3 separate regions of the Homo sapiens genome follow, and regions 1 and 2 are each linked to region 3. The links come from fine-mapping of genetic effects on gene expression. A gene starts in region 3. Each other region holds a variant in brackets. All regions are shown on one strand. Distances are from middle to middle.

Region 1 (8,180 bases), 61 kb before region 3:
CACTGATAAATTATCACTATTCTTCAGCAAGGTCATAATTGGTTGGGGGAAGGGATATGGCAAATTTCATCATGGGACTGCTATTTCTGCCCTGGGAAAGATCCTAGAAAGAGTCTGGGATACTGGTTCCAGTTACTGGAGCAGTAGTCTTAACACCCTGCAGGGTCCCAGCTGTGGGCTATAGTCAGCCACCCTCTACCCACCCATTGTTCACCCTCAATGTGAGCAAGGCAGGCCAGCTTGGGTAAACTCAAGTCGCTGAACTTTCCTACCTTAAGACCAAAGGCTTAAAATGGGGAGAATATCAGTATTACTTGGCTCTTGCCAGTCTATTTCTTGGTGTCCCAAGATGTTGAGGAACCCTGGTGACACAGCATTGCAGTGAGGAAACTGAAGGCTTTGGAGTCAGATGGCCTGGGCTTGAATCCTAGCTCTTCTACTTATTGGCTGGGTGTGATCTTGGGAAGCTACTTAAACTCTCCAAGTCTCAGTGCCCTCATCTTTAAAATGGAGACAATGATAGTAGATCCTTCCTAAGGCTGGTGTGAGGACTAAATGAGTTAAAATAGATAAAGAGCTCAGAACAGTTCTTGGCACACAGTACAAGCTCAATGTATGGGGGTTCTTTTTACTATCAGAAGAAAGTACAGCCTGCCTGATAAAAGAGGAATTGCCCCCCATTAGGTGGAGGTTTTTCTCATGTTTTAATAAAAAAGGCAAAAAACATCATCGTGGCAGGGTACCAGGAAGGAAAACCTCCCACAATCCCTGACCACAGTTTATCCCCTTCCTCTGCCCCACAGCCAGGTGGGAAGGACCCCGGGGTGTGTGTGCATGTGCGTGCATGTGTGTGTGCATGTGTGTGTGCATGTGCGTGCATGTGTGTGTGCATGTGTGTGCATGCGCGCAGGGGATGTGGCTGAGCTACCTCAGCTTCATACTGCTCTCTGGCCTTAGCCATCACTTGCTGGTGCTCCTCCTTCATCTTGTCCAACCTCCTCTCATGCTCCCCTTCCACTTCCTGGCGCTTCTCTCGCAGGAGACTGCTGAGCTGCAGGGGAGATGGCAGGGATGTGGCATGAAGAACCGAGGCGGACCAGCACTCAGGGCCTGCTGCACCTGAAGGTCTTACACACATTTCCCCAATCTCCCCCAACACACACAACACATGCACATCACACAGCCATGACACCATGGTCAGCACACAGCCATACCCCAACACCCCCTCCCCACATGCATACAGGGGCATCAGATTGGAGGAGTACCTGGCTTCAAGGGAACTAAGGCATAAAAAGGGAACTAGAAATGCTAACCCCAGCTGAGCCATCCAAAGCAAACTGGAGGCCGCTGAGGCTAGGCCGGCTCAGCTGACTGTAAGAGAGTCCACAACAGGCGCACACGACTGTGGAAGACAGAGCAGCACTCACCTCGTGCTCATACCCAGCCACGTGATAAGACTTCTGGTGAACTCTGTGCTCCACTTGCCCAAGGCACTTCTGCAGCTGGGCCTCCTCTTTCTGTTGAGCTTCCTGTATCTTCTTCTGGAGGCTGGAGACCACCTGAGGAGGCCCCCGCACACACAGGGGAGTGTGACCCTCAGACAGACTGTACAGCTGCTGTGTGGGGATGTGTTCTGAGGACCTGGCATCCATCCCCCAGGGCTGGAGAGAGAGGCTCGCTGCCTAGTAGCCAGGGATGGGGCTGAATTCTGCTAATCAGCCATGAAGGGGGCCCAGGATGCTGCATCTTACCTCCCGGTGCTTGGCCTCCAATGAGGAGCAGAGCCGCTCCAGCTCAGCACTGTGCTCCTTCTCCAGCGTTGCCACAGCCTGGGGAGGAGCAAAGGGACTGTGAGTGAAGCTGGCCAGGTACTGATCATGGTGGGAGGCGGAGCCAGGAAGACTACCGACCCCCAAGCCCTCGAGATCAGGGTCAAGGGAAGCATGGGGAAGCACAGCACATCTTTGTTCCTCTGAAATAACTCAGCCCCTGAAGTCTACAACTGGCAAATGAACAGGAACATGAAGGTCAGAGGAGAGGGGCATTTCAGTAAGTTTCGGCTCTCTGCTCCCACCCCCTGCCTTTAGACTAGGCCACAGATCCACAGATGGTGCTCATGCTGGTAAATAAGATCCAAGCCAGGGGGGCCAGGTTGGATGCTGTCATTAAGTCGGGCCATGTAGAATTTTCTTTTTATTTTGGTGAGGTGCAAAGCTGCAGCTATTAGACAAGGAAAACACTACAGCAGGAGTAGGGAAGTGCACTGTACTACAAGTGCTCAGAGAGACTGTGCTAAAACCTTCAGAAGCCCACCATCTGACTGGAGTAGAAGAGGGAGTATGGACAAAGAGAAAATCCTTGCTATATTGCTAGCCTCTCATCCTAAGAAAGGAGAGAAAAGTGGGGAGTGAGGCCCTTGCAGCTGTCCCTCAGAGACAGTGAGGGACAGAGCGCCTTTGTCTCAAAACCTCTGGTCTGGCTAAATCTCTTTCAGTCACGAACTTTCTCAAATCCACAGGACGCTCTCCCTCAAGCCTCTGAGGGTTCTCTGCTTGACAACCTCCAGCCGCCACTGCCATCCAGCCTGACCCTGGAGGAGCCTTGTGATGCCTGCTGCATCCTCTGCCCTGTCATGAGCCGATTCGGTCCATATGGAGTAATGGGCCCAGGTGGTCATCTCGCTGTCTCCCATGCCTGTGTGTGTGAGACCTACTCTCCACCTGGCTCCCCAGCCTGCACGCCCACCCGAGACTTGCCCTTCTTCTCCTTGTGCACTCAGTCCCTCCCCAGGCAGCCCAGACACAGGTCAGAGGGTGAGGTCCCCACTTGACTAGCTCACTTCTTTCCTCTCCCCTTCCAGCTGCTCCCTCAGCTGCTGCAGAGCCTTCTCCTTTGCAGCATTCAGGGCAGCCTGCTCGCTCTTCTCCGAAGCCTCTATCTCTTCCTTGAGCTGCTCCAGCATTTGCCTATTTTTCTGTTCCAAGCTGGCCCTCTCAGCCTTCTGTTGAGACTCCAACTCTTCTCTCAGTTTCTGCAGGGAAGCCTCTTGCTCAGCCCTGGGTGGACACAGTGGAATGGTAACGGGCCTGTGCACCCTGGGGTCGCCTCCGCAGGGCTGGGCAGCTCACAGGTAAGCACACACTTACCTGATTTGGTCCTCATCTGCTTGTGTGCTGGACTGGACCTGAGCTCGGAGCCAGGATAGCCTCTGGCTTTCCTCCTCTCTCATCCGGGCCTCCTCCTCCTCAATGGCTTTCTGCAGCCGCTCCCTCAAGGAACTGA[G/C]ATGGAAAGGAAAGGCTAGGTTGTCAGAGAAACCACAAAGGTCTTTCTTCTATTCATAAGCTATGGCTCTCAGCCTCCAATAGCCCTGTTGCCTGCCTAAGAAACTTCCTAAATCTTTTTTTTTTTTTTTCTTTTTGGAGACAGGTTCTTGCTCTGTTGTCCAGGCTGGAATGCAGTGGTGTGATCATGGCTTACTGCAGCCTTAAACTCCTGGGCTTAAGCAATCCTCTCGCCTCAGCATCCCATGTAGTTGGGACCACAGGCATGCACCATCAAACCCAGCTAATTGTTGAGATGGAGTCTCGCTATGTTGCCCAGGCTGGTCTTGAACTCCTAGGCTCAAGTGATCCTTCAGCCTCAGCCTCCCAAAGCACTGAGATTACAGGTGTGAGCCACTGCGCCCAGTCAAAGCTTCCTAAATCTTAAAGATGAGTCTAACCTTAGCCTCTAGGTCCACTGCTGCCTCCCTAATACCTCCCAGGATTACGAAGGGACCATGAACTCCCCTTTGCTTCAAGAAGCAAACTAATGGCCGGGCGTGGTGGCTCACACCCGTAATCCCAGCACTTTGGGAGGCCGAGGTAGGTGGATCACTTGAGGTCAGGAGTTCGAGACCAGCCTGGCCATAATGGCGAAACCCCGTCTCTACTAAAAATACAAAAATTAGCCGGGCATGGTGGCGCACACCTGTAATCCCAGCTACTTGGGAGGCTGAGACAGGAGAATTGCTGGAACCTGGGAGGCAGAGGTTGCAGTGAGCTGAGATCACACCACAGCACTCCAACCTGGGCAACAGAGCAAGACTCTATCTCCAAAAAAAAAAAAAAAAAAAAAGCAAACTACTGGCTTCTGGGTTTTGGTAGTACAGCACTTCTTCCAAAGGCTCCCCTCTGTCAACAGCTTCACCTCAGCATGGCACTCACTCAAGGATAGCTATAGCCACCCAACCAGATTCCACATTCTTTCACTCCGACAGACTCTGTTCTAGCCACATCAGCTGAGTCACCATCCCTCCATTCTACCACACTCTTCCTTCCTAGGTTCTCTGCCAAGAATTCCCTTTTCTATCTGGCAAACCCATATTCATTCCTCAACACTCAGCTCCCTCTCTGGGAAGTCTTTCCAACTCCCTACAAGCTCATCAATTCATCTTTCTGTTCCCATCACTTTACATGTGGACCTTTCTTATCCCATGCTACTCTGCACCATGCGTCACATGGCATCATAATTCATCTTCTGTATCTCTGTTTTCCTTGCAAGTCTGGGAGCTTCTCAAGAGAAAGAATCTTGTCTTAAAATCTGTTATATCCCAGGTACCACACATAGTAGCTGACATAAAGTAGGTGCTTAATAAATTAATTGAATTTGAACAGCATCATCCAGCCCCAAACTATAAGCAAGCCGTGATATCTATGAAAGGTTATCTTATTTACACACCAACAACAGTGGCCATTTCATCCTAAGCAGACATCCCCCTGCTTACACAAACCACATCCTTTTTGGGTAACTCCTCACACAGCCCCACACGACCAGGGGATGTGTGCTGTGCGCTCAGGGAATTCAAACCTAGGAAAAACGTGATTCGGAAGACAATTCCTTTGAAAAGCTTCTGTAGCAAATCCTAAAGCCAAAAAAAGACTTAGGATTCTTTCCTATTTCAAGATACTAACATCATTACTTTTTTCCATTAAGAGAGAAAATTTGGCCGGGCACAGTGGCTCACGCCTGTAATCCCAGCACTTTGGGAGGCCGAGGCAGGCGGATCATCAGGTCAGGAGATCGAGACCATCCTGGCTAACCCAGTGAAACCCCGTCTCTACTAAAAATAAAAAAAAAAAAATTAGCCAGGCATGGTGGCAGGCGCCTGTAGTCCCAGCTACTTGGGAGGCTGAGGCAGGAGAATGGCGTGAACCTGGGAGGCGGAGCTTGCAGTGAGCCGAGTAAGCCACTGTACTCCAGCCTGGGCGACAGAGCAAGACTCTGTCTCAAAAAAAAAAAAAAGAGAGAAAATTTGAATTAAGTAAAAATCCTTCCTTCTAGATTCCCCAGAAACCTTTTCTCTTTGTCCTATGGCTAAATTTTACACACAGCAACACAGTGTTAGAGCTGGCAGGGACTTTAGAAGTTTTAAGTCCAATCCCTTCATTTTACAGTGAAAGAAGCTAAGGGCCAGCCTGCCTGCCTTCTCATTCCAGAAATATTTGTTACAAGATCAGCTGTGGCTTCCAGAAATTTCTACCACATGGAAGTTCCCAGCAGACGGAAGGAGAGCCCATTCCTCAGAAAGGCTTGGGCATAAACAGAAACAGGTTCTGGTGATGAACTAGTTTGAAGAAAGCCAGGCCTTGAAGGCAGTGTCCACAGAGAAATCACTTAGTCAAGAATGCCTGAATATGCATTGATTTCCATTGAAAAGTAATTGCTACCATTTGTTCAGCAACTGCTATGTTCCAGGCCATGAATCAAGACACTTCTAGCATGCCAGTCTTCCCCACAACCTAAGAGGGCCTCTGGAGTCAGGGGCCTCGGGAGAGAGATGGAAAGCACAGTCAGCCAAGCTCAGGGTGGCCAGCAAGAGGGGAGGAGACTGGTGGGCTGGCAGGGACACAGCGCCAGGATTTCCTCCAAGGTGCTGCACCTTAAGGTGAGTCACATCCTGCTTGGGTGGGCCCCTGCCCCAATTCTCAGTTGGCTGGAAGAGGAGGATGCTAGGGGGTTGGAGGATGCTAGGGGGTTGGAGGTGTCTGTTCTTTGGGATGCTCCCTGGTGGAGGACCCACAAGGATGTGATATAAGGACAGACCCTATGTCAGTGCTTCCTGCGCTGGACTCATGAGAGATTGCTCCAACCTTCCCAGTACTTGTATGTTGGTTTTCTGTTTTATATTCTCTAAATTAAGCATAAATGTTTTATATATACTTTGCTAGGTATCATCTAAAAATAATAATTTTCTACCACTCTTGGATGTTCTGTACAAGAGGACAAGACTTAGCCTTTAGTTAAATTGCCAAGTAAATGAAATATGTTAACACCTTTTTGTAGTACCTTTCCCAACCTGGGACTGTGACAGATGGCTCATTAACAGCTCAATATCCATTCTCCCTTTCTTCCTTACCAACAGAACCCTGCTTTTATTCTACGGGGTAAAGAGGTCAGCTAAAGGACTACATTTCCGAGTGTTCTCTGCAACTAGGTGTAACCAATGAGATATAAGCAGAAATTGTTGGGTCAAGTTTCCCAACTTTAGTTGGTCTTAGTAGAACCATGGGCATCCCAGTGGTCCCCAGGCTAAGAGGGTGTCCCTGGCTCCTCACATCCCTGAAAGGCCCCAGGAAGCATGCCTAAGGGGAAGGGCAGGACCTGAGAGATTGCTCTTTCTGCTGGTGAAGCCGGAGGATCTCCTCTTCCTCCTCTTGGCACAGCTTCTCCCGCAGTTGCTGCATCTTCTCTTGCTTGGATTCCAGCAGGTGCCTCTGGTCTTGCTCGAGTACTTGGGCCACTGCCTCTTCCATGGCCTTTAGTGCAGCCTCTGAGAGCTGCTCTGGGGGAGCCACAGGCTCTGTGGATCGCCTACCATGGGTGGGGAATGGCATATCATCACAGGGTTAATGTCCACCCACCTCTGCATCCAGGTTAGAATGGATACGGAACATCACAGATGGAATCCTAATGGAGGGCCCACAATCAGGAGTCAAAGAGGTCACCCAAGGGCAGGCCAAGAGATACAGTCAATGCTTGTTCCATAGGACAAGCCCCATTGTGGCTGTTTAAGGCCCCAAGAGCCTAGGGAGAAGGGTAGCCCATAGCAGGCTCTCAGCAGACTTACGAGGTTATGGCCCAAGATCAAAATCTGAAGCTGCGGCTCAAGAGCTGGCAGCAGCAGGGAGAGAGTGAAGCTCTGTCCCTAATGGATTCCTTCCTAGAATGGCTCACAGCCCCGTTACCACCTCCCCGCTAGAGCTCTGCCTGCTACTTAAGGCTCATGCCAGCAATTTGTGAACAGTCCCCAGAGATTGCTTTCTGCCTCCCAAACTGAGTAGTGGCCAATGTATATGGGCCCATGAAAGAAGCAGCAGCAGGTATCCCAGCTCTGAGAACTACAACAGTCCAGGAAGGCCCAGGAATAGGAAGCTCCCCTATCACACCACCAAGGGGGCCAGGAGGAGATGCTCCCCTAAGCCAAAAAATGTAGCAAGCATGCACATGAGTGCCATGTTCCCCGTCTACCCATGGGGGCACGTTTTCGTCTGCTTAGAGTTAATTAAATGTTTAGAAATGAATAAAAGGAATTCAGAGCTGACCTGGATACATAGGAGGGTGGTGAGATCAGGAATAATGGTATCCATTAAAAAGATGTGTATAAAGTAATAAGGACTGTTATTTTGCTTGTTTTCTGGTTCTTCAACGAAATGCCCAAAGAGGAATCCTGAGAACATTCTGAGCAGGATAAAGCATGAGCAGGATAAAGCATGAGGAAACCATGAGCAGGATAAAGCATTTTGTCTCCCAGAGTGACTTTCCTAAAGGCCAGAATGTGTCTCCACGTCCAGGTCCCTCAATCTTACGGTGGAAAGTGGCCTCACCACACACCCTCCTCGCACAGCACTCAGGCTGTTGCAGGCCTGGCATGGTGGCTCAGTCAACCTAAGCGGAAAGTGTGGGCATGATCCAAAACAAAGAGGGCTGGGCAAGAGTCAAACAGGGGAGCTGGTCCTCCCTGCTGTGGACTCAGAATCCCTTCTCCCTCCAGCTCGAGCCCCGCTGCAGATGGAAAGCAGCGGGCAGGACCGGATTAGAACAGTAGAGGAAAACAAGGGCTTACGAATCCCATTGCAGCACCTTGAGACTATAGAGAGAGGAAGACAGGACAGGCTACTGTCATCTCTGAATTACCATAA
Region 2 (8,180 bases), 33 kb before region 3:
AGTAAATGTTAACAAGCCCAAGGTCAAAGTAAATCATGATCAATCCACATCAGGATCTTCCATCCACCAGCTGACAGCAGGGACCAAGTACCCACTCTATCCAGAAACTGGAAAAGCCAAGTGAAGAAAAAAATATGACACAACCTGCCTGGACACTCTCTCTGTCCCGAGGTGGCTCATTCACTCATTCACAAGTTCACTCTCTCGATTGTTGAACAAAACATACCCAAGCACTTCCTATGTTTCAGAGGCAGCAGGCTAGTTGCTTCCTGGCCATACAGAAATGAATAGGGCAGAATCTCCAGCCTCAACTTGCTCATTCTCATAGAGATTGTCTTCTTCCTCCACAAGCAAATAAGTCCTCTGACACCCCTAGTCCTATACATGGTCAACCTTCTAGGCACAAAGCCTGAGCATCTCCTTTGATCAATATAGGTCTTACTGGTGGTGGAGAAGAAAATAAAGTTGTCATTTCAGGGAACTAAACAGATTGAAGGCTTTAGATTTAATCCTTCCAGACTAGGCCCCACTCAGAAGGAACAGTTTCAAAGCAGACCTATATCAGCTTGATAATAAAAACGGGACACTTAGAAAAAAGTGTCACATTTGGCAAGAAATTGTAAAGTCATAATCAAAAGGTATCTGACTGTGCAGAGCCAAAATGCTGAACAGTTTCTGAGGTTACAGGCAAAGTCTAACTACAAAAAGAGTCCTAGGCTGGGCACAGTGGCTCACGCCTGTAATCCCAGCACTTCGGGAGCCCAAGGTAGGTGGATCACTTAAGCCCAGGAGTTCAAGACCAGCCTGGGAAACATAGCAAAACCCCATCTCTACAAAAAATAGCCGGGTGTGGTGGCGGGCGCCTGTGGTCCCAGCTACTTGGGAGGCTGACGTGTACTCCAGCCTGGGCAACAGAGTGACACCCAGTCTCAAAAAAAAAAAAAAAAGCCCTGTCCAATGGCTAGACTTGGGTCACCCACAACTCAGGTCTCAAGTACCAAATCAGGGGCTATCAGCCAGCACATCTGAAACTTCAAGTGGCCTGAGACACCAATCCTGGCTCTTAAGGTAAAGTGATTTCCAAGAAACAAGTCAGAAATAATAAGGGATAATGAGAAAACAAATTTAAATTCAGGATATAAGCACTTCTAAAGTTTTACAGGCCAGTTTTGTGATCTTTCTAATAAAGTGTGAGTGACTTGTTTGATGTTAAGGTATTGAAAGTATTTAAAAGAACTTGATATATTAGACTTGTGAAAAGTTTAACTGATTGAGCCTGCAACAAATATTTAAATATTTGGGGAAATCTAATTGTTGAGTTCATGATTCATTGGTTGTATAAATACTTAGGGAATATTTAGAGAAATGTTATATTTAAATGAATACACTGGACACTAAACAAAGGATACATGGTAGGGAAAGCTCCTTTCTAAGTACAAAAACACATAGCTGGGCACAATGGCTCACACCTGTAATTCCAGCACTTTGGGAGACCAAGATGGAAGGACTGCTTGAGACCGGGAGTTTGAAACCAGTCTGGTCAACAGAGAGACCTCATCTCTGCAAAAAATGTAAAAAGTAGACAGGCATGGGTGCGTATGCCTGTAGTCCTAACTACTCAGGAGGCTGAGGCAGAGGATCACTTGAACCCAGGAATTCAAAGCAGTGAGCTCTGTTCACACCACTGTACTCCAAGCTGGGCAAAAGAGTGAGGCTCTGTCTCTTAAAAAAAAAAAAAAAAAAAAAAAAAAAAGCATTGGAGGTTTTAGGTATTACAATAACATAATGAGTGTTGATGTTTGTTTGTTTAGAGGCAGGGTCTGGAAGGGACAGGAATCCATTCATTTATTCTTGTCCTTCCCCAAACCCCAGAAATCTCATCTGGAAGGACTGGGACAAAATGGTTCTTTTTCCAAATATGCATTACAACAAAGTAGCAGGGCTTAATAAAAACAGGAGGGATATGCCAGGCTGACACATGTGCCTGTAGGGATTAGGGCTCTTACCTCATACTCAAAGTCACCCCCCAGTGCCCCAATGTCCAGGTGTAGGTTCCTAAGAGGCTCACTTGAGCTGTGGACACTCTAGAAACAAAAATGATGACAAGTGGTAACTCTGAAGAAACTGGTCAACCCAGGGTGAGGGGTGTGCAGAGGGAAAAGTGGGGCACTGCTGAGCTGACAGGCGGGCCCAGGCAGGGCTTCAGAGGACTCAGAGCAGGACCACCACTGAGGCAGCCTCACTAAACGGCTCTCCATCCAGCGCAAACTATGCTGTGCAACAAGCAAGTGGCCAAGGTGCTTTCTGCTGGCTGTACTTTCTGGATCAGATCTAGAAGACATAATAGACTGCTCAAGAAATGAAGCTGTAGGCCAAAAAAACTTCTTGCTTTTTTAAAAAGTAGCACAGAGATCAGCCAAAGGTGGAAACAACCCATATATATTCATCGACAGATGAGTAGATAAACAAAATGTGGCATATCCATACCATGGAATATTATTCAGCCTTAAAAAGGACCAAAGTTCTAATACATGCTACAACATAGATGAAGCTTGAAACATTATGCTAAGTGAAATAAGCCAGACACAAAAGGACAAACATTGTATAATTCCACTTATATGAAGTACCTAGAATAGGTAAATTCATAGACACAGTAAGCAGATTAGGTTTCCAGGGATGGAGGGAGAGGGAATAGGAAGTTATCATTCAATAGGTACACAGTTTCTATTTGGGATGATGAACAAGTTCTAGAAATGAATAGTGGCGGCGGGGGAGTGCAGAAAAAAAAAGAAATGGATAGTGGTGTTGGGTGCACACATTGTGAAGGTAATTAATACCACTGAATTTTAACTTTAAAATGGTTAAAAGGGCAAATTTTATGTTACATATTTTTTCTATCACAGCAAAAACATTTTCAAAAGGAAAAAATATGGCACAGAGGGTTTCCAGGCCAGGGAGAGGACTTCATCATTACCTGGTTGTCACTTTCCTCCTCATCCTCCTCATTGGTTTCTTCTCCTAAACCCAAGAGGCTGAGAGCAGTCTTGTCCTCATATATGGAGCCCAAGAGACCCTTTGTATAAGCAGAGGTCTTGAGACCCTGTGAAGGCTTCAAAATAGAGAAGGACAGTCAAAGGACTCACTTGGAAGACCTTTGGAATGACCTTTAGAATGCTCCTCCCCACTCTCTATGTCAATGTCTCCCAGATCAAGTGCCACCATGTCCATGAAGCTGACCTGGCGACTGCAGCTCACATCAATGACTCCCTTTGCCTACTCCTACTGCCTTGGCTGCAGAGACTTGGAAATCAGCACTGATGTCCCTACAGCATGGGTCTATCCTCCACAGCCCAGAGTCCACATTCATACAGGTGCGAATTACATTTTCCCAACTGGATTACGAACTCTGAGGACTCCACCGATTCTGTCTATTTCTCACCCCTAGGCCATAGTTCCTGGTATGGCACACGGGAGGCCCCACAGGAACTACAGACACTGAACGCAAGAGAACGTACTTACCAGCATGAGTTCTCCAAGCTGACGTCCAGACTCCACTGAGCTCCCCAGGCTCACGCTTTGAGATCCACGAAGAGCAGAGGGTGGGGTATCCACAAGACCTCGTAAAGGAGCCAGGCCCCCAAGAGGAACATGAACTGGGGCTAATGAGGAACCCAAGGCCTGTGCAACAGAAAACATCTTGTTACAACTCAAGAAACCAGGTGGCTCTGGGAGTGTCGGAGACAGATATAAAAATAAAACATCTAAATCCTGCACGCTCAAATTTAAACCACCTCCGCTCAGAGGCTGCTAATGAAACACAACATCCAGAAATTACCATTGTGCCAACTGTGTGAGAAATCACAGGCTGGTTTCCTGATTCTCATAAGTCTCATGCTGTCTCACAGTAAACAGTTCTTTTACATCTGGCAGATGCTGCGTGGGGTTCTGCTCTCCTTTCAGAAGCCATATAGGAGGCCGGGCTCGGTGGCTCAGTCCTGTAATCCTACCACTTTGGGAGGCAGAGCCGGGTGAATCACGAGGTCAGGAGTCTGAGACCAGCCTGGCCAATATGGTGAAACCCTGTCTCTACTAAAAAATACAAAAATTAGCCGGGCGTGGTGGCGGGTGCCTATAGTCCCAGCTACTCGGGAGGCTGAAGCAGGAGAATCACTTGAAACCGGGAGGCAGAGGTTGCAGTCAGCCGAGATCACGCCACCGCCCTTCAGCCAGGTGACAGAGCAAGACTCTGTCTCAAAAAAAAAAAAAAAAAAAAAAAAAAGCCAGGCGCAGTGGCTCACGCCTGTAATTCCAGCACTTTGGGAGGCTGAGGTGAGTGGATCACCTGAGATCAGGAGTTCAAGACCAGCCTGGCCAACATGGTGAAACCCTGTCTCTACTAAAAATACAAAAATTAGCTGGGCGTGGTGGTACATGCCTGTAATCCCAGATACTCAGGAGGCTGAGGCAGGAGAATCACTTGAACCCGGGAGGCGGAGGTTGCAGTGACCCGAGATCACACCACTGCACTCCAGCCTGAGCGACAGAGCGAGACTCTGTCTCAAAAAAAAAAAAAAAA[G/AG]CCATATAAGAAGGATGCGGGAGGGGAAAGCAGAGACAAATCCTCATCTACCAGAAGAATTCTCAGTTGATAAAGTTTAAAACTGATGAGTCAAGAAAAAGCAGTCTAAGTGTATTATTTACAAAGATGGATGTAAACACCACAACAGAATGGTTGCCTTTGAGGAGAGCTCTGTACAGTGAAGTGCTATACTTTCTTATATGCCTTTTAGTACTATTTGACTTTTTTAACTACGGACATGCACTACTCTGATTAAAATCTAAGGCCAAGGCATAGTGGCTCACATCTGTAATCCCAGCACTTTGGGAGCCCAAGGTAGGAAGATCACTTAAGGCCAGGAGTTCAAGACCAGCCTGGGCAACATAGCAAGACCCCATTTCTACAGAAATATTTTAAAGATTAGCCAGATGGGGTAGCATGCACCTGTAGTCGCACCTACTCAGGAGGCTGAGGAGGATGGACTGCTTGAGCCCAGGAGCTGGAGGCTACAGTGAGCTATGATGGCACCACTGTACTCCAGTCTGGACAACAGAACAAGACCCTATCTCAGACCAGCCTAGGCAACACAGTGAGACACTGTCTCTACAAAAAAATTAAAAAAATTTGCTGGACATGGTGACACACGCCTGTGGTCCTAGCTACCTGGGAGGCTGAGGCGGCAAGATCAATTAAGCCCAGGAGTTCAAGGTTATAGTGAGATAGAACCACTGTGAGATATAACCACTGCACTCCAGGCTGGGAGACAGAGCAAGACCCTGCCTCTAAAAAATAAAAATGACCCTGTCTGGAAAAAAAATCAACACTAACTACAAAAAAAATACACATGAGCAACAAAAGAAGGACTCTCTCCCCTCTCCACTGATGAGGAAGGTGGCTGAAAGGAGCCTTGCCGAAGGGCAGTAGTGGGGCTGACCAGGTCCCTTCTTTTCCCTGTTCTCCTTCCTGCAAGCAAGGGCTGGGGAAAGAAATCAGGCTACGAGTCAGAATTCGTGAGACCTCCCGCTACTCACAGACTCTCCAATTCTCAGTTTACTCATCCGCAAGATGGAGATGATGTGTGCCTTGCCACCTGACTAGGTGTGCAGAGAAGCTCAAGGAGATGAGTGCTAGGGGCCTTTGTGAGTGGCCCAGGGCTACACCAGCATTATAAAATTGCCACCATCACAGGGATTCACATTACAATAATTTAGGCTTATCAGAAGCAAGGATGGCAATCTGGTGACAATTTACAAAGACCCCTTCAAAATTCATTTCTCAAACTTAAAATGTCTAAGATGACACAAAAATTCCAATCCTCCCTAATCCCACAAAGACTGAAGAGAGAAAAGGAAACCCAGAGGCGGTCAGGCTGAGGTTCAGAAGATCCATCTTCTCACCTGTAGCCTCAGCCTAGGGGCCAGACCGGTGGGTGGGTTCCCAGCAGGGCCCATTTCTGCATCAGATGCTCATCAGGAAAGTAAGGTGAGAGACACTCCTGAGCTTCTGCAGGTCCACAATCATCTGGCCTGTTGTAGAACATGTTTGTGAAGGAGAAAACGAGCTGATAATCGTAACACCAGCCAGCAGTGCACTGGCTAAACACCTTCCGTACAATGTCTTATTTTACTCTCACAACCACCTGAGACTGGCTCTGCCATTATCCACAGTCCCCATACGAGCAAACGGAGGTTGGTGAGGTCAAGAACCCTGCCCAGGCTGGGCGTGGTGGCTCACGCCTGTAATCCCAGCACTTTGAGAGGCTGAGGCAGGCGGATTACCTAAGGTCAGGAATTCAAGACCAGCCTGACCAATATGGTAAAACCCTGTCTCTACTAAAATACAAAAATTAGCCGGGCATGGTGGCAGGTGCCTGTAATCCCAGCTACTGAGGAGGCTAAGGCAGGAGAATCACTTGAACCTGGGAGATAGAGGTTGCAGTGAGGTGACATCATGCCATTTCACTCCAGCCTGGGTTACAGAGTGAGACCCTGTCTCAAAAAAAAAAAAAAGAACCCTGCCCAAAGTCACAGAGCCAGTGAGGGGCAGAGATGGGATTGGAACCCAAGGCTATCTCTAAGACAGTACTTTATACCAGCTCTGGCTGTGGCAGAAAGAAGAGCCTAGGACATACATGGTCCCTGACACCTATAACCCCAGTACTTTCGGAAGCCAAGGCAGGAGGATCACTTTTAGGCCAGGGGTACAAGACCAGTCTGGGCAACACAGTAAGACCCCATGTCTACAAAAAAATAATTTTTAATTAGCTGGGTATAGTGGTACACATCTGTAGTCCCAGCTACTCGGGAGGATTGCTTAAGCCCAGGAGCTCAAGGCTGCAATGAGCTACGATCACACCATTGAACTCCAGCATGGACAACAGAGCAAAACTCTGGTCTCTTAAAAAAAAAAAAAAAAAAGGCCGGGGGAGGGGAAGAGCCCAAGAAAGCTTCTTCAAGGTTAACTAGGCAAACCAGGCATGCCCCTCCTGGTTTCAGCCCTTCAAACCAGCCTATGTATCAGCAAGCAAAATTATCCCCACACTGTATTTATGGAAATACAGACTCCTAACATGGCTGGCTAATTTGCTAACATGCTGGGGGCTTGAGGGAGGGAGACAAGCATGCTGAGGGCTTTGTTCTCCCAGGCCTTGACCAAATCAGCGATTAGTGGAGAAATTATACATTCCTGGCTCCTAGCTGATCATCTTCTATAGATGGCCATTAACTCTGAGTATGGGGCTATGCGTGGAGTTGTCCTTCAGAGCAGATAGACTTACTGCCACTGGGCTAATTAAAACTTTCAGGATAATCTGCAGCTTATCCGATATTTATAGTGCTACAGTAGTTATTAAAGCTAACAGAGAACCAGTGCAAGCCAGCAATTAGGAAGCAGAGGGAACAACTGGATAAAGCCACAGCTGGGCAACAACAAAAGAATAGCTGGAGAAATTCAGATTGATCCCCATGGTCTCTGATCCAACTTGACTTCTGAATGAAGAATATAGTGACTCTTTAAAGGGACAAAGGTAGAATGATAGGGCAAGGTCAGCCATTTGATAAATCCCAGTAGAGGAGGAAGTGAACTCAAGAGTGACGTCACAAATATGGTCTACACAAGCCTGACACAGGTTATCCATGTGGTTTTCTGGGGACCCTAGGAGGCAAAGAGCAGAAGCAGCTCACTGGATGGCAGAGAAAGGTTCTGGCCTCCGTCTCTCATAAGAATATTAGCTCTCAGCCCAGGCACGGCAGTTCACACCTGTAATCCCAGGACTTTGGGAGACTGAAGCAGGCAGATCACTTGAGGTCAGGAGTTTGATACCAGCCTGGCCAACATGACAAAACTCCGTCTCTGCTAAAAATACAAAAATTAGCCAGGTGTGTTAGCACACGCCTGTAGTCCCAGCTACTCAGGAGGCTGAGGCACAAGAATAGCTTGAACCCAGGAGGTGGAGGTTGCAATGACCTGAGATGGCACCATTGCACTCCAGCCTGGGCAACAGAGCAAGACTGTCAAAAAAAAAAAAAAAAAAAAGAATATTAACTCTCTAATCAGGTGCAGTGGCTCATGTCTATAATCCCAGCACTTGGGGAGGCCAAGGCAGGTGGATCACTTGAGACCAGGA
Region 3 (8,180 bases):
CTCAGAACCCTCAACATTGTTCACTACGTAGCAGTTACCAATAGATGAGATGAAATCCAGTGAGATCTACTTGCTGCCTAGCCTGAGACCTTCTGTGAGCCAGAGTTAGGAGGGGTCACCCAACTGCACTCATGCATCTCCTACCAATCTCAGAATCAGGCAAAAAAGGAGTGGCTCACACGTTTCCTCCAGGAAGCCTTCCCAGCCAATTTTATCCTCTCCTGTCAACCCAGAACCACCTTAGCACTGAGCTCATAATTTTCATGTGTTCCCAGACAGATTTCTCTCAATATTATTATTTTTTCTTTCTTTCTTTTTGAGACAGAGGAGTTTCGCTCTTGTTGCCCAGGCTGGAGTGCAATGGTGCGATCTCGGCTCACTGCAACCTCCGCCTCCTGGGTTCAAGCGATTCTCCTGCCTCAGCCTCCTGAGTAGCTGGGATTACAGGTATGTGCCACCACGCCTGGCTAATTCTGTATTTTTTTAGTGGAGATGCAGTTTCTCCATGTTGGTCAGGCTGGTCTCGACCTCCTATCCTCAGGTGATCCACCCGCCTCGGCCTCCCAAAGTGCTGGGATTACAGGCGTGAGCCACCGTGCCTGGCCAATATTACTTTTTTTATGAAAATGTGTCTTCTTACCTCTCCTGTTAAACCACAAACTTCTGAGGGCCATGTCTCCTCCTCTGGAATTTTCCAACAAAGCCTAAAATAAGCCTATGTAAGCTGTCGGAGCTCAGTTACTGCTGTAACTGCTAATATAAAACCAAGGAATAGGCCGGGTGTTGTGGCTCACACCGGTAATCCCAATACTATGGGGGACCAAGGCCTAGGATCACTTGAGCCTAGAAGCTCAAGACCAGCCTGAGCAATATAGTAAGACCCTGTCTCCACAAATATATATATATATATATATATTAGCCAGGCATGGTGGCGTGCACCTGTGGTCCCAGCTACTCGGAAGGCTGAGGCAGGAGCTATGTGATCAGATGGAAAGGAAGACAGAGTTACATAAAGAGTGTAAAGTGGGGAGGCAGAGGTGGGAGGATCACTTGAGACCAGGAGTTCGAGGCTGCAGTGAGCTATGATTGTACCACCATACTCCAGCCTGGGCAACAGAGTGAGACCCTATCTGAAAAAAAAAAAAAATACACCAGCAATCTCAGAAGCTAGGAAGACCCGCAGTAGTTTTGGTCCACCTTCCTTCCCATGCCAAAATTTTCCTCTCTGTGCTTCCAGTGACAGGCGGCATAGTGGTCAAAGTACCAGCTTTGGAGACAGAAGACCTGGATTCAAATCCCAGCTCTCTCACTTAGCAGCTGTATGACCTTAGGCAAGGTGCTTCACCTCTCTCAGCCTCAATAACTGCATGTGTATAATTAAAACAATCTTAACAAAAATCAAAAAGCCTGAAAGTAAAATGAAACAACACTTATAAAGTGCCTAGCACAGTCCCTGTATACAGAAAAGTTACACAAATTTAGCTAGTATTACAGATTCTATTTTCAATTCCATAGTTAGATAATTCTTAACTATTAGAAGGTCTAATAGTAAGCCAATAATCAGGTTCTAAAAAAATGTTCCCTGGTATCTCAAGTCTGCCTTCTGCTCATCTGGGGACACCCTAGGATTCTCTAGCTAAGGTAGGCTAAGTATTCCCAGTTCTCTTCCATTCAGTACATATCGTTTCCCAGTCCTTCAATATTGTGGCTACCTTGCCCTGTACTTTGTCAGCATAGCTAGAGTTTTGCACATCTGCACACTAACAGAGAATATACACTCACAGACATAATGAGGGTTCTCTGTATATTTATTTCTTCCACCCTGCTCCAACAATTACAAAGAAGGTTGACCACAGAAAAGATTGACTGGAGAAGGTAAAGGGGAGAAGGTGGAAGATGTCAGAGTTGATTACGCAGTGGTAATGAGCAAAAGCTTTGGAACATTCTTGGCTTTCAATCCCAGCTCTGCCTCTTACTAGCTGGACAGCCTCAGTTTTCTCATCTATAAAATGAGAGTACTAACAATATCCATCACAATGTGTTGTGAGGCTTATATGATTCAATACATGTAAAGTGCTTAAAATATACTAAGGTCTCAATAAATGTTAGACATTACATTATTATGACTGCTATTCACCTATTTAAAAGGGTTTATTCTACCTTGCTCCAAAGGACATATCCAGCACCAGGCAATATAAGTTAAGGCCATTCAGACATTAAGTAATCACTTTTTCTTTGCTTTTTTTTTGAGACAGAGTATCATTCTTGTCACCCAGGCTGGGGTGCAATGGCACGATCTCTGCTCACTGCAGCCTCTGCCTCCCAGGTTCAAATGATGCTCCTGCCTCAGCCTCACGAGTAGCTAGGATTACAGGCGCCTGCCACCACGCCCGGCTAATTTTTGTATTTTTAGTAGAGATGGGGTTTCACCATGTTGGCCAAGTCTCGAACTCCTGACCTCAGGTGATCCGCCCGCCTTGGCCTCCCAAAGTGCTGAGATTACAGGCGTGAGTCACCGCGCCAAGTAATCACTTACTGAACACCCACCATGGGCCAGACATTGTGCGACGTGTTAGGGCTACAAACCTGATTACACATGGCCCTGAACTTGAGCTCAGCCTACCTGGAAAGCCAAACACGTAAACACATGACTACAAAATGTGTTACATGAATTAAAGGAAGTAACATAATATATAACAGAACACAAAGGTAAGGGCAAATAATCTTAGGAAGATCAGGGAAAGCCTCACAGAGGACAATTGAGATAGTTCTTGAAGGATAAGCAGGTGATCCCCAGGATAAGCGGAGTAAGGGAATTCACGGCAGAGGAACAACATGCACAAAGGCAAAAAAGAAGAAAATCATAAGGTGGGTGCAAAGAATTAATTATGACAACAAAAGCTTATAGCCACTGAACACTTCCTATGTTACAGGAACTGTACTGAGTGCTCTATATACATCATCTCACTTCATCCACTCAGCAAAATAGAATTATCTTCACTTTTCAAATAAGGAAACTGAGGCTTAGCAAAGTTAAAAAAAAAAAAAAAAAAAAAAAGGCCAGGCGCAGTGGCTCACGCCTGTAATCCCAGCACTTTGGGAGGCGGAGGTGGGCGGATAATGAGGTCAGGAGATCCTGACCAGCCTGGCCAACATGGTGAAACCCCGTCTCTACCAAAATACAAAAAATTAGCCAGGAGTTGTGGTGCCCACCTGTAGTCCCAGCTACTCGGGAAGCTGAGGCAGGAGAATCGCTTGAACCCAGGAGACTGAGACTGCAGTGAGCCAAGATCGCACCACTGCACTCCAGCCTGGGCGACAGAGCAAGACTCTATTTCAAAACAAACAAACAAACAAACAAACTTGCCCAAGGTGTCACAGCTAATAAACGGTAGAGCAGAATATGTAAGTATCCATGTCTGACTCCAAAGCCCAAACTCTTAACCATTCTGACATGACCAGAGTGCAAGGGACAGTGGGAGGAGTGGCAAGACAGAGCTCTAGAATGAAAGGCAAGAGCATATTATAAAGGGCCTGGAAGAACAGAGGCTCTATCCTGTAAATGATGAGGGGCCATCACAGGATTTCACAAAGGAGACTGGCATGACCAGATCTGTAGGTCAGATAGACGATTCTAGCCAAGAATAGTGGTGCATGCCTGTAGTCCCGTCTACTAAGGAGACTGAGGTGGGAGGATGGCTTGAGGGCAAGAGTTCGAGGCTGCAGTGTACTAGGGTCACACCGGTGAATACCAACTGCACTCCAGCCTGGGCAACATACCAAGACCCTGTCTCTAAAATAAATAAATGATTCTGACAGCTGCATAAGAACTAATTACAGGAGGACAAGAACTGAGGCAGAGAGACCACTTAGGAAGTTATCCTGAAAGCACAAGCAAGAAATTATGAACTAAGTCAGTGTCTGTGAGGATGGAAAGGAAGCGCCAGATTCTAGGGGAATTAAGAGGCAGAATACAGGACTTGAACTTCGGGAGAGAGGAGGGAAATCAGAGCACTAAAGCCAGAACACTGTGACTATCATTTCTAGATGTGTTCATTTCTATGCCTCGTCCAATAGGCAGCCCCACCTACTACACTGCCTAGAAGACAGGGCATGTCCGACAAATGTTTGCTGTATTTATTAGATGAATAAATTAAAGGGACAGACTTGGCTGAGTGAATGGTGAAGCCCTTCATTGAGATAAAAAAATACAAGAGGAGAAACAGATCGGAGGGACCGGGGAAGGCTGACGATGACAGTAAGCAGGTCTGAGCTCAGGAAAGAGGTCTGGCTGGAGTAGTTTGGCGAGTCAACGCTGAAAAGCTGATAACGCAAGAGATGGAGTGCGCCGAGTAGAAGGGAGCTTTCTACTGCCAAGGACTGAGTTAGGAGAACGGACAGGGAGTCGCTGAAGCCAAGTGAGGAGAGCGGTGCCAGAGGTAGAGGGACATTTTTAAATCCAATGCAAGAAAAGGAAAAAACAAAAAAGCTTTCCAACTTTCCCAGCTGGCCAAAGATGGCATAAGATTGGGCTAGCCCCGGATTTGGACCCGGGGGGAAGCCTGCCACAGAAGTATCCCAGCAAGCTTCGGAAGGCCTGGCCTCACTCGCCAACGATGAACAGAGCAAGCAAACCAGGGCCCCGTGCCCAGTGCCCCTCTCCCGCGTCCCGACCCGCTGCTCACTCACCCGCCAGACCCCCAGCCCGGGCCCGGTGGCCCGCTCAGGAGCCGGCGAGATTTCAAACGGAGGAACTGTCGCCTGGCAGTCCGATTTTCACTTCTTCCCTCAGTCCCCGCCCACACTCGAGCGCATCACGCTCGTTGGCTCGAGAGCGTGCCTCGGGTCCCCCGCCACGCTCGCTCCCTTCCCCGCCGCCCAACCCCTCCCTCGATGAGGTCCTCAACTATCCCCCACCCCGGAAGGCTCCGGGCGAGGCTCCGGGCGAGGCTCTGGGCGAGGCGCAGCTCCCCCAACGCCACCCAACACCCACCCGCTCCCCCAGCTTCCAGGGACGCCGGGGTGTTGCCCTGCAGCGCGCAACAAACACTTCCGGAAAAGGTACCGCCTAGCAACCGGGAGTCCCGCCTCCAGCAGGAGCCAATAGGTCGCCGGCTGAGAGCTGTGACAATGGATTGGCTCGAAGTCCCTTCGGTGCACGCAGGAGCTCTGTCCGTTTTCCGTTGCACGATGGGAGTGTAGTTTAAGATAGATAATGGGAATCCGCAAGAGGTTGAAAGAGTGTAGTTTAAGATAGATAATGGGAATCCGCAAGAGGTTGAAAGAGAACCTCATCGGCTGGGCGCGGTGGCTCACGCCTGTAATTCCAGCAATTTGGGAGGCCGAGGCGGGTGGGTCACCTGAGGTCAGGAGTTCGAGACCAGCCTGACCAACATGGTGAAACCCCTTCTCTACTAAAAAAAAAAAAAAAAAAAAAAGAGGACCCCGAGTTTAGACGTGAGGATTTCTGCCAGGACAGAGAAGGACTATTTAGAGTATTTATACTAATGTGAATTATCTAATTATCTAATTGATCATTTGTTAGGAGTATGATTAACATCAGGTGAATAATACAGTGGTCATCAATAATCAACCCATTGTTACTTTAATCAACAAAACAAATGTGAATGTAAGGTAATGGAGACGCGTCCACTCCCCATCTCTCCCCGCAAAAAAACTGGCTCTCCTGTGCTCCTATTAAACCAGTGAGCACCTGACCAGGAGTTAAACCTATTTTCTACTATCCATCTTTTCACCAAAGCCCAGGGTTCAGTTTGTATGTCTGCAAGATGGGGATAGTAATGTCTGTCATAACTATTTCAAAGAGTCTATTGAAGAAGAAAAAAAGTGACACAATGTGTAGCTCCTCCACACACCCTGTCGGGCAGAAAGGTTGCTACTAATATAATTCCGAAGAGTTTTAGTTTTGCTTGCACGGAGGGCAAATCTTCCTTTCTCTCATATGTCTCCAACCTCCTAGAGAAGTTAAGAGGGGCAAAGAAAGTTCTGGCCATTACATCAATAGGAAAACTGAGAAACAGACAAATACAGATGCTGCTAGTTGAGGAGGAAAATGATGAGGCCAAGCTCATAGAGCCGCTCCTGATAGGTTCTAGAGATGTAGCTGACTCAGGATAGTCCCAGTGCCACTCAGAGGCTGATTCCAGGATGAGAAACTCAGATTGTTGGAATATACAGAGCATATTCCTTGTGAAAATTATCAAAATCAAAATAGAGTCATTTGTTTTAAAACCCTGACAAATGGAGCCAGGGAAGACCATGAAGAGAGGGTTCTCACGCATGAATACCTGATAACAAAAACTATCGACCGGGCCTGGTGGCTCATATCTGTAATCCTAGCACTTTGCCAGGCACAGTGGCTCACACCTGTAATCCCAGCACTTTGGGAGGCCAAGGCGGGTGGATCACCTAAGGTCAGGAGTTCGAGACCAGCCTGGCCAATATGATGAAACCCCGTCTCTACTAAAAATACAAAAATTAGCTGGGCATGGTGGCACACGCCTGTAGTCCCAGCTGCTCAGGAGGCTGAGGCAGGAGGCTGAGGCACTTAAACCCGGGAGGTGGAGGTTGCAATGAGCCCAGATCAAGCCACTGCACTCCAGTCCAGCCTGGGTGACAGAGCAAGACTCCGTCTAAAAAAATAAATAAAATAAAAATTCCTACTTGAGCCAGGCACAGTGGCTCATGCCTGGAATCCCAGAACTTTGGGAGGCCAAGGCAGGTGGATCACCTGAGGTCAGGAGTTAAAGACCAACCTGATCAACATGGAGAAACCCCATCTCTACTAAAAAATACAAAATTAGCCAGGCATGGTGGTGCATGCCTGTAATCCCAGCTACTCGGGAGGCTGAGAGAGGAGAATCGCTTGAACCCAGGAGGCGGAGTCTGTGGTAAGCCAAGGTCTCGACATTGCACTCCAGCCTGGGCAACAAGAGCGACACTCCGTCTCAAAAAAAAAAAAAAAAAAAAAAGGTCCTACTTGCCCAGCCTCTATGGCATGTGTATACCTATTGCAATGCTACTTCTAAATAAATATCATTTTCTTTTGGAGTTTCCCTCTCTGTTATTTAGATTGACGTCATCATGTTTAAATTTAAATCCTTCTGCAGCAGTTATGCCTATACTTCCTTTATTCTTACTGTAAATGACAAATCATCGTCCCCTTTCCTCTCCATCTTCTTTAAAAGTCTTGGCCGGTCACAGTGGCTCACACCTGTAATCCCAGCATTTTGGGAGGCCGAGGCAGGCAGATCGCCTGAGGTCAGGAGTTTGAGACCAGCCTGGCTAACATGGTGAAACCCCATCTCCACTAAAAATACAAAAGTTAGCTGGTTGTGGTGGCAGGCACCTGTAATCCCAGCTACTCGGGAGGCCGAGGCAGGAGAATCGCTTGAACCCAGGAGGTGGAGGTTGCAGTGAGCCGAGATCTCGCCATTGCACTCCACCCTGTTTGACAAGAGCGAAGCTCTGTCTCAAAAAAAGAAAAAAGTAGGCCAGGCTGTGGTGGCTCACACCTGTAATCCCAGCACTTCGGGAGGGTGAGGCAGGTGGATCACCTGAGATGAGGAGCTCAAGACCAGCCTGGCCAACATGGCAAAACCCTGTCTCTACTACAAACACAAAAATTCACTGGGCGTGGTGGCACACACCTGTAGTCCCAGCTACTTGGGAGGCTGAGGCAGGAGAATCGCTTGAACCCGAGAGGCAGGGGTTGCAGTGAGCCAAGATCACGCCACCGCACTCCAGCCTGGGTGACAAAGTGAGACTCTGTCTCAAAAATAAATAAATAAATAAATAAATAAAGGTCTCACTGAGGGGCCAAAGGGACCAGACTGGGAAGGAATTCTGGGCTCACCAGCTCATCTACCACAAACCTGCACAAAACAGGGATTCAAAAAACCATTTGTAGACTTGGTCCCTATATCTAAGAATTTGCAATCTTTGCAATCAATCTGGTTTTTTGTTTGTTTGTTTGTTTGCTTTTTGAGATACAGTCTTACTCTGTCACCACCATGCCAGGCTAATTTTTGTATTTTTAGTAGAGACAGGGTTTCACCATGTTGGCCAGGCTGGTCTTGAAATCCTGACCTCAGGTGATCCACCCACCTCGGCCTTCCAAAGTGCTGGGATTACAGGCATGAGCCACCACGCCCAGCCCT

Evidence for each region.
Region 1: its variant is fine-mapped to the expression of CEP164 in whole blood (TOPMed, PIP above 0.99). The same link has a PIP of 0.9 or more in thyroid.
Region 2: its variant is fine-mapped to the expression of CEP164 in whole blood (INTERVAL, PIP above 0.99).

The regions. Positions count from the first base shown.
Region 1 is chr11:117,385,875-117,394,054 of GRCh38, reverse strand. It overlaps CEP164 (centrosomal protein 164), which reads right to left. Exons shown (of 33, transcript NM_014956.5): 15 at 6,643-6,852; 16 at 3,147-3,278; 17 at 2,840-3,056; 18 at 1,752-1,829; 19 at 1,428-1,559; 20 at 929-1,051. Among named protein-coding and RNA genes, the nearest start is that of CEP164, 62 kb to the right of the region's middle. The variant G/C (reference allele first, on the strand shown) is at 3,283.
Region 2 is chr11:117,357,333-117,365,512 of GRCh38, reverse strand. It overlaps CEP164 (centrosomal protein 164), which reads right to left. Exons shown (of 33, transcript NM_014956.5): 6 at 3,520-3,678; 7 at 2,975-3,109; 8 at 2,007-2,084. Among named protein-coding and RNA genes, the nearest start is that of CEP164, 34 kb to the right of the region's middle. The variant G/AG (reference allele first, on the strand shown) is at 4,577.
Region 3 is chr11:117,324,718-117,332,897 of GRCh38, reverse strand. It overlaps CEP164 (centrosomal protein 164), which reads right to left and starts at 5,044. Exons shown (of 33, transcript NM_014956.5): 1 at 4,994-5,044. RefSeq lists a silencer at 4,727-4,976.